3 linked regions of the Homo sapiens genome follow. The protein of the gene in region 2 purifies or fractionates together with the protein of the main gene of each other region. This does not show direct contact. Each region holds a gene or a part of one and is shown on either strand. Other genes may lie near its edges.

The links.
Region 1: the proteins of KLRK1 (region 2) and DCAF10 purify together in Homo sapiens (affinity purification with mass spectrometry, with the first as the bait; one large-scale study listed by BioGRID). This does not show direct contact.
Region 3: the proteins of KLRK1 (region 2) and RSPRY1 purify together in Homo sapiens (affinity purification with mass spectrometry, with the first as the bait; one large-scale study listed by BioGRID). This does not show direct contact.

The regions. Positions count from the first base shown.
Region 1 is NC_000009.12:37,803,582-37,807,317, forward strand, and holds part of DCAF10 (DDB1- and CUL4-associated factor 10), read left to right. Parts: intron 1-3,736. UniProt on the Homo sapiens protein: May function as a substrate receptor for CUL4-DDB1 E3 ubiquitin-protein ligase complex.
Region 2 is NC_000012.12:10,372,960-10,376,695, reverse strand, and holds part of KLRK1 (NKG2-D type II integral membrane protein), read left to right. Parts: intron 1-2,559; exon of another isoform or gene 2,560-2,661; intron 2,662-3,464; coding exon 3,465-3,582; 3' UTR 3,583-3,736. Other genes in the region: KLRC4-KLRK1 (NKG2-D type II integral membrane protein), read left to right, coding at 3,465-3,582.
Region 3 is NC_000016.10:57,213,829-57,217,328, reverse strand, and holds part of RSPRY1 (RING finger and SPRY domain-containing protein 1 isoform 1 precursor), read right to left. Parts: intron 3,442-3,500; coding exon 3,383-3,441; intron 1,223-3,382; coding exon 1,156-1,222; intron 426-1,155; coding exon 294-425; intron 1-293.

The sequences.
Region 1 (3,736 bases), on a different chromosome or scaffold from region 2:
ATACTGCCATTCTTTTTCATGTTTATCAGGGTGATGAGTGAAAATACTTCAGTGTTTTAATTTTTCAGTCTTCTTACTTCATCTAGTATGCCCTACATTTGTGTAGGACTTAAAGTAATTTTACAGATAGATGACATATCCGTGTTAAATGAGGTAATTTCTCATATCTTTCAGTTAAATATGAGTTAAATCAGCTTACCAGGTAGCATAACCACTGTCACCCTCAAGGACTTCTCAATACAGAGAAGGAGGGGGTGACACAGAATGTAAAAATTAAAATTATGAATTTAATAGAGACCACAATATAAGGAATTTGGCAATAAAAAAGATAAATGGGTTAGAAGGTATTTTCTAAAGAATTCAAAAAATGTTTTAAGTGATAGAAACATTGTCAAAATAAGTGTATCACCTTCTAAAATGACATTTTGAAAAAGTAAAATTGATAATGTTAATAAATTATAGTATGTCAGACCCTGTCAAACTGTCCTCCATGAGAACACATTAGGCACAGCTATAGAGATAATTCACATATTGGAAAATAGAAGCAAAGAAACTAACTAGAATACAGACCTGGAAAACACAGAGATTGAAAATATGAAAAGGAGATTTAGTAACACAGAGCATAGAGAGAAAAAGCATACCATATAGTTAGCCAGAGTTCCTAAAGAAAATAGTCCCAGTTTCTTCAGGAACTCTGGCTAACTATATGGTACGCTTATACCATATAAGCATATCATATGGTGTAAGGGGGACTATTTGAAGACATAATAGCTGAGAACTTTCCAGAATTGAAGAAAGGCACCAAGCCATGATTTAAGAAGCCCAACAAACCCAAGCAAGAATTCTTTCTAGACATATTGTAGTGAAACTGTGGGACAATAAATATAAAATCTTAAAAGACAGAGGAAAAAGGGGCCGGGTACGGTGGCTCACGCCTGTAATCCCAGCACTTTCGGAGGCTGAGGTGGGTGGATCACCTGAGGTTGGGAGTTCGAGACCAGCCTGACCAACATGGAGAAACCCTGTCTCTACTAAAAATACAAAACTAGCCGAGCGTGGTGGTGCATGCCTGTAATCCCAGCTACTCAGGAGGCTGAGGCAGGAGAATCGCTTGAACTTGGGAGGTAGAGCTTGCGGTGAGCCAAGACCGTACCACTGCACTCCAGCCTGGGCAACAAGAGCAAAACTCCATTTAAAAAAAAAAAAGTAGAGAAAAAAGGCCTCAAAGGAGCAACTATGAGAGTGATAGCCAATTAGTCTTCAACCATAATATAAATATAGAGACAGTGGTAATTATTTCAATATGCTAGGAAAAAACCCTCAGTCTAGATTTATACCCAACAAACATAGGTTCTTTGTCCTTGCCAAGAACAAAGATGAAATAAATACATATTCAGACAAGGAAAGCTGAGTAAGTTTGCCAGCAGACCTCCAATAAAGGAATTCTAAGTTCAGAGAGAAGGAAATTATTTTCAAACGGAAGGTCTGAGAAGCTAGAAGGAATGAAGAACAAAAAGTGTTAAATATGTATGTACATGTTAATCTGATAATGTCTTTTGGGATTAATAGAGATGGAACAAAAATAGAAGACAATAATAGCATATAAATTATGAAGTGAGGCCGGGTGTGGTGGTTTATGCCTGTAATCCCAGCACTTTGGGAGGCCGAGGCGGGCGGATCACTTGAGGTCAGGAGTGTGAGACCAGCCTGGCCAACCTGATGAAACCCTGTCTCTACTAAAAATACAAAAAAATTAGCCTGGTGTGGTGGCATACACCTGTAATCTCAGCTACTTGGGAGGCTGAGGCAGGAAAATCACTTGAACCTGGGAGGCAGAGGTTGCAGTGAGCGGAGATCACATCACTGCACTCCAGCCTGGGTGACAGAGTGAGACTCCATCTCAAAGTAAAATAAAAATAAATGATAAGTGACATTCTAAGTTTTTATGTATTTGGGGGGATAATAATATATGTTAACTTTGGGCTTTAATAGGTATTTAAAATTTTCAAGGAACCAAAAGACAAGAAAGATTATAATTTCCAGACTAGTACAAGAAAAAGTACAGAATGAGAAAAAAATTCCAAAAGAAGGCAAGAAAGGAAAAGAAAAAAAGACAAGATATAATAAATAAAAAGCACAAAGAATAGCTGAAAATAAATCCAAACATTACTAGTTGCAATAACTATAAGGTACTAAATATTCTAATTAAAAGACAAAGAGTAGCTTGGCGCAGTGGCTCACGCCTACAATCCCAACATTTTGGGAAGCCAAGGCAGGTGGATCACTTGAGCCCAGGAGTTTGAGACCACCCTGGGCAACATAAGGAGACCCTGTCTCTACAAAAAGTACAAAAATTAGCTGGTTGTGGTGACGTGTCCCTTTGTCCCAGCTACTCAGGTGGCTGAGGCAGGAGGACCACTTGAGCTCGGAAGGTGGAGGCTGCAGTGAACCAGGATTGTGCCACTGCACTCCAGCCTGGGCAACAGAGACCCTGTCTTGCAAAAAATAAAATAAAATTAAAAAATAAATAAAAGAACAGTACCTCTTAAAATCTTACTCTTAATGGCATTCGTAGACTACATTCAGGCCTGCTATTCAGCTGATACTGGTTCAGCTATACTAGTTGTTAAAATATTGATATGTCCATAGTGGTTGAACAGTTACTGTCCCAAGCCTGTTAAGTGTCATCTTAATGCTTCATCGCCTTCCTTGGGACTTCCTATAGTAACCAATTATATAGCAACTAAAGAGTTAAGAACTAGGACAGCAAGAGACTGTCAGCAAACATCTCACTGGAGAACTACAGGGCAGCAGCCATTCTAATTACTCCTCACCCGTGCCTGGCAACCTCCAACACACAAAAAAATCCATAGGCCCAGTGACCATCTGGCTTCCCTAAGAGTAGGGCTGCCTACCTTTCTCATATCACTCTCACATGGCCCCTTTGGGAACTACAGCCCCGGGAGATCCAGAAAGAAGAGCAGTCAAATGAGAGTAATAGTACTGTACTACCGCAGTTGCCATCAAAATATATTAATTCTCTTGGCACAGTATACATTCCCATGGCAGGATAGAATCTACAGCAGATGATCGAGGCCTGTGGGGATGGTTTATGGATGAATAACTTCTGGGATGCACATCCTTAGTTTTATCATTCTTGTTTAATTTCCCCATTATTTAGATAGGATAAGTGTGCCAACACCCAATGAATACCTGCCTACAGTAGGCATTAATGACACTCATGTTATAAATGAAAATGACTACCAAAATACATCTTTTTCTGTCTACCAGACACATTTAGTTGGGGGAATTAAGAAGCAGAAAGTTTATTAAATGAAGGTTCTGTACCTTGGTGTATGCTGTTAACTGCTGTGTTACGTTACCTCTCACCTGGACTGAGGGATTAGGTTTAATATAATTAAGTATATCAATAAATTATTTTTGTGACTTAGTTATTAATATATTTAAACAAATATTGACTATATGAAACTAACAGCAAGCATTTGAAGGGCTAAAAACATTTTAAAATATACTTACTGTTACTTCAGCAAAAGCCAAAAAGAGGATTCAGCTCCCATGAACAATTCTGTTGATGTTAAGAGTGATTTCTTTTTTTTAGGCCAGGTATGGCAGCTCATGCCTATAATCCTAGCACTTTGGGAGGCTGAAGGTGGAGGATTGCTTGAGCTCGAGTTCAAGACCAGCTGGGGCAACATAGGGAGACCTTGTCTCTACA
Region 2 (3,736 bases):
TAGGTAAAAATTTTCTTCTCACTGATTTCTGCTTTGATCTTTATTATTTACTGTCTTCTTATAGTAGGTTAAATTTGCTTTTTTAGTTTCTTATATTGAAAGCTGATATGTTGATTTGAAACCTTTTTTTCTAATAAAAGTTATACTATTAATATGTGAGATGATTTGGCAACATCCCGTCATATTTTGAGATACTACTTTTTGTTTCCATTCAGTTAAAAATAGTTTCTAAATTGTCTTTTGCATTCTTTGATTCATTGATTATTTACATGTGTCATTTAGTTTTCAACATTTGTGAATTTTTCAGACATTTTTATTATTGATTTCTAATTTAATTTCATTTTCATTAGCGAATTATTTTGTATAATTTAAAACTTAAATTTATTGACATCAGTGTTATGGACTAGACTATAGTGTGTTTTTAAAAATGTTTTAGGTGTATTTGATCAGAAATGTTTATTCTGCTGTTTTCTATGTATTCTATGTGATAACCTTTGAAATACAAAGTTTTGTAATATGGCTGGTAGAAACAGGCAAAATACTAGACCCTATGTTAGCACTAAGTATTGTTTACCCTAAATCTTTTCAGACAGTTCTTTCTCCATCCTGGAGTAGTTTTTTACATACATGCATTAGTAAGTACTCTGCTGAATATTCAAAGGTGACCTTCTGCATATCTTTACATTTCTTTATTTCTTCAAATCTCTTATCTCCATTTCTGTGTCCGGTGAACTACAGCTTGGTCTTTCTGGATTCTGAAGTGTCCCATGTCTGTAGTTTTTATAGCCTGCTCTTTTACCCACTTGATTGCACAGAGCAATTCAGCACACCCAGACTAAGTGACAACATCTTAATGTTCACTGATCTTATGAATATAGTTGTAATTCTCCAGATTAATGCTAGAGTATTCAAGAAAGGTCATTTCTACCATTTGAAAGATCTGACCTGTCACTACACTGTTCAGTAATTTCTTCATTCAGCTACAACGATCAGGAATGAAACCTAAGCATTTTGTCACTACTGCTTTTCCTTTTTTCAGTCTCATAATATCACAAATATTGCAGAAGTCCTCTAGATTGTAAATATTATAATTCTTTATTTCAAGGGGACTTTAGATATTTGAATTTCCAATTCTTCAATGTAATAAAAAGTCACAACAATATCAATGTTAAAATTAGGTTAATTAGGTGCTTCCTGTCTGTCAGACACAGATTTAAGCACTTAAATGTATCCTTTCATTAAATATACTTAACAATCCTGTATACAGGTGTTATTTTAACCTAATTCTAATGGTATACAACAGAATCTTAACATGTTAAATAACTCACTTAAGTTACAAAATGAATAATTGTTGCAATGAGGACTCAAATATATATATTTCTGGCTCTGGAGCCAGACTTACTATTAAATGACTAAAAAAGTGCTCTTTTCGCTGATTTTTAAATTTACTTTGCTACTTTAATGATTAATTGGCAATGATCAATGCACAACCTTTTACTCTCATGTGTTATTTTCAATTTTCCCCTTGTGTTTATTGTAGCAAGAACTCCCTACCTTCCTTCCTTATTATCTATTTGTAATTTGGAAGCCCCAGTATACCTTAGAATTGATCCAGGATGGCCTCATTTATGTATGGCTTGAGAGTTTTTTTAACAGAAAAAACATTGATTCTCTAAAAAATAAGAGTTTATATCATAGTTTCTCAATATTTTCCTATCTACAAGGACAAAATTTTTTTTCAGAAGCAAAACAACTAGCATACTAACTTTCTGTTTATGCATGTAGTAAATATTGGTTGATTACTGCACAATTTCCAGGAATTATGCAGAGATAACTACAGAGATGAGTAGAATAAAACTCATTTTAGAGCTTCAAACTCTAGTCAGAGATGTAGTTACAAACAAATAATCCAGTGTAGTTAGTTAGGTACTCTGGCAGAAGTGTAATGAAAGTAGTATGAAAAAACAGAGAAAGAAATCGAAGGAACACATGGACAAAGTGATATTAAAAAGAATGAGGCCGGGTGCAGTGGCTCACGCCTGTGATCCCAGCACTTTGGGAGGACCTGAGGTCAGGAGTTCAAGTCCAGCTTGGCCAACATGGTGAAAGCTCATCTTTACTAAAAATACAAAAATTAGCCAGATGTGGTGGCAAGTGCCTGTAACCCCAGCTACTCCTGAGGCTGAGGGGCAGCAGAATTGCTTGAACCCAGGAGGTGGAGGTTGCAGTGAGCCGAGATTGCGCCACTGCACTCCAGCCTGGCTGACAAGAGCAAAACACTGTCAAAAAAAAAAAAAAGAGAGAGAGGAAAGAAAGAAAAAAAGAACGAGACTCTAATGTAGACTGAACCTAGTAAGAGCAGTTATTAAAAAATCTCAGCTGGGGCCGGGTGCAGTGGCTCACACCTGTAATCCCAGCACTTTGGGAGGCCGAGGTGGGTGTATTGCTTTAGGTCAGGAGTTTATAACCAGCCTGGCAACGTAGTGAAACACCATCTCTACTAAAAATAAAAAAATTAGCCGGATGTGGTGGCACATGCCTGTAATCCCAGCTACTTACGAAACTGACACAGGAGAATCACTTGAACTTGGGAGGCAGAGTTTGCAGTGAGCCGAGATTGAACCAGTGCACTCCAGCCTTGGCAGCGGAGCAAGATTCTGTCTAAAAACAAACAAACAACAAAACAAAAACTCTTTAAGAATAGTTTTCTCCCTACAGTGGCCGATTGTTCAGTTACAGAACAGAGATCATTACATCGTCTTTTTAAATAGGGATAGCATCAGACCATAATCTTTTTATTTTTTTGTCAATTTTACATTGAAGTGACATCCTCACTCTTTCTTGAGCTTTCTATTTCCCATCTCTTATGAAAGAAAACAAAGTATCATTATTAATCATATAACTCCAAAAGATTAAAGATGCCAGAGTAAAACACATATATAGATATAGAAATCTCCACATGGAATGCCTAAACATATGCACACACACACACACACACACTTATACACACTTGTGAATGTGTGTATGTATGTATTAGATTTGAAATTTTATTTTCATTTCCTTACCAAGTAAAATTGCATATATCTGAAGAAAATGTTTTATTTTTCCACAAAACACAGTATCAAATTCTAAATTGAACACTGAATTTATTTCTCACTTAAATATTTGTTTTAAAATAAACATTCTAAAGTTTTCATTTAACTTGGGTATACATATGAAGAGATTTTAGACTTCAGAATTGGCTAGTTTCTGATGTATGATAAAAAGAGTGGCGCATTATTTATAATTTTTATTTTTATTATCTGAGTTGGCTATATTTTGTTTATGAATTAGGACCAGGCATGGTCCATAATCTCCTAAAATGGTATTAAGTTCCTGTATTTGAAGTTCAATAGGTATGATTCATTTTTATTTTCCCGCGTTAATAAAATCATGTATGTAATTTGTAATTGTCTCTCCTCTAGACTAACAATAATTGAAATGCAGAAGGGAGACTGTGCACTCTATGCCTCGAGCTTTAAAGGCTATATAGAAAACTGTTCAACTCCAAATACGTACATCTGCATGCAAAGGACTGTGTAAAGATGATCAACCATCTCAATAAAAGCCAGGAACAGAGAAGAGATTACACCAGCGGTAACACTGCCAACTGAGACTAAAGGAAACAAACAAAAACAGGACAAAATGACCAAAGACTGTCAGATTTCTTAGACTCCACAGGACCAAACCATAGAAC
Region 3 (3,500 bases), on a different chromosome or scaffold from region 2:
TGTTGGAAAGAGCTGGTTAGACAGTGCCATATAATTAAGGGCTTTGATGCAGCAGGAAACTGGGTGCCAGTAAAGGTTTTTGAACAGGAAAATGCTGAAATTAGAAGCATACCATGTAATTCTTGTCTAAAGGGTCTCTAGGATACTTTTCTGCTAGAATATATCCAACCTGCCAGTAGAGGTCCTTATGAGGACTCATACTTACCATTGCAAAAGGAAGACCAGTGAGCCTATGAAAGAAATGAGTCTGGAAATGGAAACGGACATTTTAATAAAGGACAACTCCCACTTACAGAGATTGTCTAAGCTCCACTGGGCACAGAAACCAACTTGACGTTTCAGATAATCAGGATCATTAGCCCAGGACTCCAATGTGACAAGCCGGTCACTAATACTGGATTCAGAAATAGTCAATTTATTTTCACCTGTTTGGAAAGACATAATCCTTGAATTAACAATGAAAGGGTAGAATGATTTGCTCAGCAAATTAGTATTGCTAAGGAGGGGGAAGAGGCAATTAAAGAATTGGAGACTAGATTAGACTTCAATTAAAATTTCTAGGGAAAACATAGCCAAAGAGCTTTGACTATTTTGTTTTCCTTTTTTTTAGTCACAGGGTCTCACTCTGTTGCCTAGGCTGGAGTGCAGTGGCACAACTATGGATCACTGTAACCTTGAACTACTGGGCTCAAGTGATCCCCCCGCCTCAGCATCCCAAGTAGCTAGGAACATAGGTGCATGCCACCATGCCTGGCTGATTTTTTAAAATTTTTTGTAGAGATTGAGTCTTGCTATGCTGCCCACCCTGGTCTCGAATTCCTGGCCTGAAGCAATGCTCTGGCCTTAGCTTCCCAAAGTGCTGGGATTATGGGCAAGAGCCACCATACTTTTTTCTAGAAACTAGCAATCACATCACTAAATTTTTGGCTATAAAAAGTGAGTAAACATGGTTACCAAGTTTTGATTCTTAGGTGAGAAAATCCTTGCCTTTGTCCCTGTTATACTTCATTGGCTTTAACGTGTCTATCCAGATGAAAACAGAATGTATGCCCATCTGATGGGGTTCAAAGTGTAGGCTTATCCAGTAACTAAGAAAAATAAAATTTTTAACAACCAATACAGAAGATCATTAGTGCAAGAAGTCACTATACCTACTTGTCTGTGCAAACTTTTCCAGTGCGATAAGTGCAAAAAGCATGACTGTGGGGTGGGACTGTAACTTCTGAAAAACAACAAAAGATAAAAAAAAAAAAAAAAAATCATTCCCCTGCAGAGGTGGCAAGTTATCAGTTTCATTTCCTTGCCCAATATGTGCTAGATGTTTTTTCGAGTGGTCAGAAAAGTTTCATTCATTCAAGTTCTCAATTATCCATTTGGCTAATAATGTTAGTAATGAACTGGACAGGCTCTCTTAATCTTGTATTTTTTTCTTAAAGTCACTAGGTTAATTTATAGATTTGGAAATTTCAAAAGTATCCTGTTAAATACACTATGTTATTTTACTTAATAAAACTTACATTAGGGCTTTGTTAAATAAAATATTCATTCTCACATTCATTTATGCAAGCCAAACAGAAACCTAGAATTATAAACTAAAAATGATATTTTACTTAGAATCCTAAAAAGAACCACTTATCACTAACAAGTTGCAAAATTATAAATAATTAAATTAACAATTAATGGCTCAGTTTTTAAGCTGTTCCCTGAAAGGAATTCTACAAATGCTGATGGTAGACAGGAGAAAGCAACAAGTGAACTCTTTTAGTTACATTTAAGCTCATGTCACATGAGTTCCCCTTTAAGGAAAGGTCTATCTGTTGAACATGACACCTTCTCATAGCTGTGCTTTCCCTACTGCTACATTGGGAGCCACCAGAGGAGCTCCAGAACATCAGATGATTCCCACTGACTTCCCTGGTACCTCCTAAGTTCTGGAAACCTCACATAACCACCATCCCTGCTGCTGGAAAGCCTATTCAGCATTCTATTTCTTCTCATATCCATCTAAATCCCTCTGCCTGGCTTTTCAGGCCCTAAACCCTTTCTAGCTGGCTACTCAGTCTGTGTCCTATCTCTGAACACTGTCTTCTCTCATCAGACAATTCTCTGTCTCTGGACTTCTGCCTGTGATGTTCCCTTAGCTAAGAAACCAATTTTTTCCCTCCTCTGGGCACAATAAAATCCTCATCTATAGCATGACCCAGCTGAGGGTCCACCTTCATCAGGAAGTCTGACTTTCATGACACCCCGGCTCTCATTACCCATACCACCCACCTTCTCATTTAGTCTTTTTTTTTTTTTGAGATGGAGTCTCGCTCTGTCGCCCAGGCTGGAGGGCAGTGGTGAGATCTCAGCTAACTGTAATCTCTGCCTTCTGGGTTCAAGTGAATTCCTGCCTCAGCCTCCTGAGTAGCTGGGACTACACACACATGCCACCATGCCCAGCTAATTTTTGTATTTTTAGTAGGGACCAGGTTTCGCCATGTTGGCCAGGCTGGTCTTGAACTCCTGACCTCAGGTGACCAGCCCACCTCAGCCTCCCAAAATGCCGGGCTTATAGGCATGAGCCACCGTGCCCGGCCCTCATTTAGTCTTGATGAAGTACTTTCTCCCATGATCACATCCTGTGATAAAATGGAGGCTAATTACCTTGTCTGAGTAGTTTTGTTTCCTCAACTAACCAATAAACCTCTTGAAATCATAGGACTGCCATGTTGTATCCCCAGAGTGCTCATTGAGAGTAAGGTAAGTGTTTTAAGCACGTATCAGTGGGTATTGACAAATAAGGGTTTTCAGACCAGAGTTTTGAAAAGGGCCAATGCTCACTAGGCCTACAAAAATAACTTTTAAAAATACAGACCATTCAAGACCACAGGCCAGAACTATGAGAGATCTGAGGGCACAGCCTCAGCAAACCAGAAGCTTCATAGACAATATATTAAATATTCCAGTGACAACAGTTTTAAGAGTAGCAGTGAGGGGGAGGGCAGGGAGGAGTAGAGATTTATATATACTGGGAATCTGACTTGATGGCCTCCTGGCTTGGAACGCCATGTAATTGTTTCTACTGTGGAGGTCCCTATTACCATTTGGCAAACTCAAGGAACATGCAAAAGAGCCAATCATAGCAGCTATCTTATGACTAAATTTAAAACCAGACTAACTCAGCTGTTTTTGCTGGTTGGGATAAATTCCAATCCCACTCTCTTTTTTAAACATAGGAGGGAATAAATAAGCACTCGGGAAACACCTGCAAATAAAATTTACAATTGATTCCATTCTCTGTGCCAGTGGCTATGCCAGCAATTTGAGAAAATGCACAGTTCTAGATGATGCCCACTTCTAGATGACTAAGAATAAATAGTTTTGATGTCTCACTTACCAGACACTGTAGCAAGTATTCCAGTATTCCTGGGCTAAGTAAACCTATACTTGCAGGACCTAGACAAATACAACAAACACTTGATATAATTAAAATGCCAGATTATTTTAAATCACTG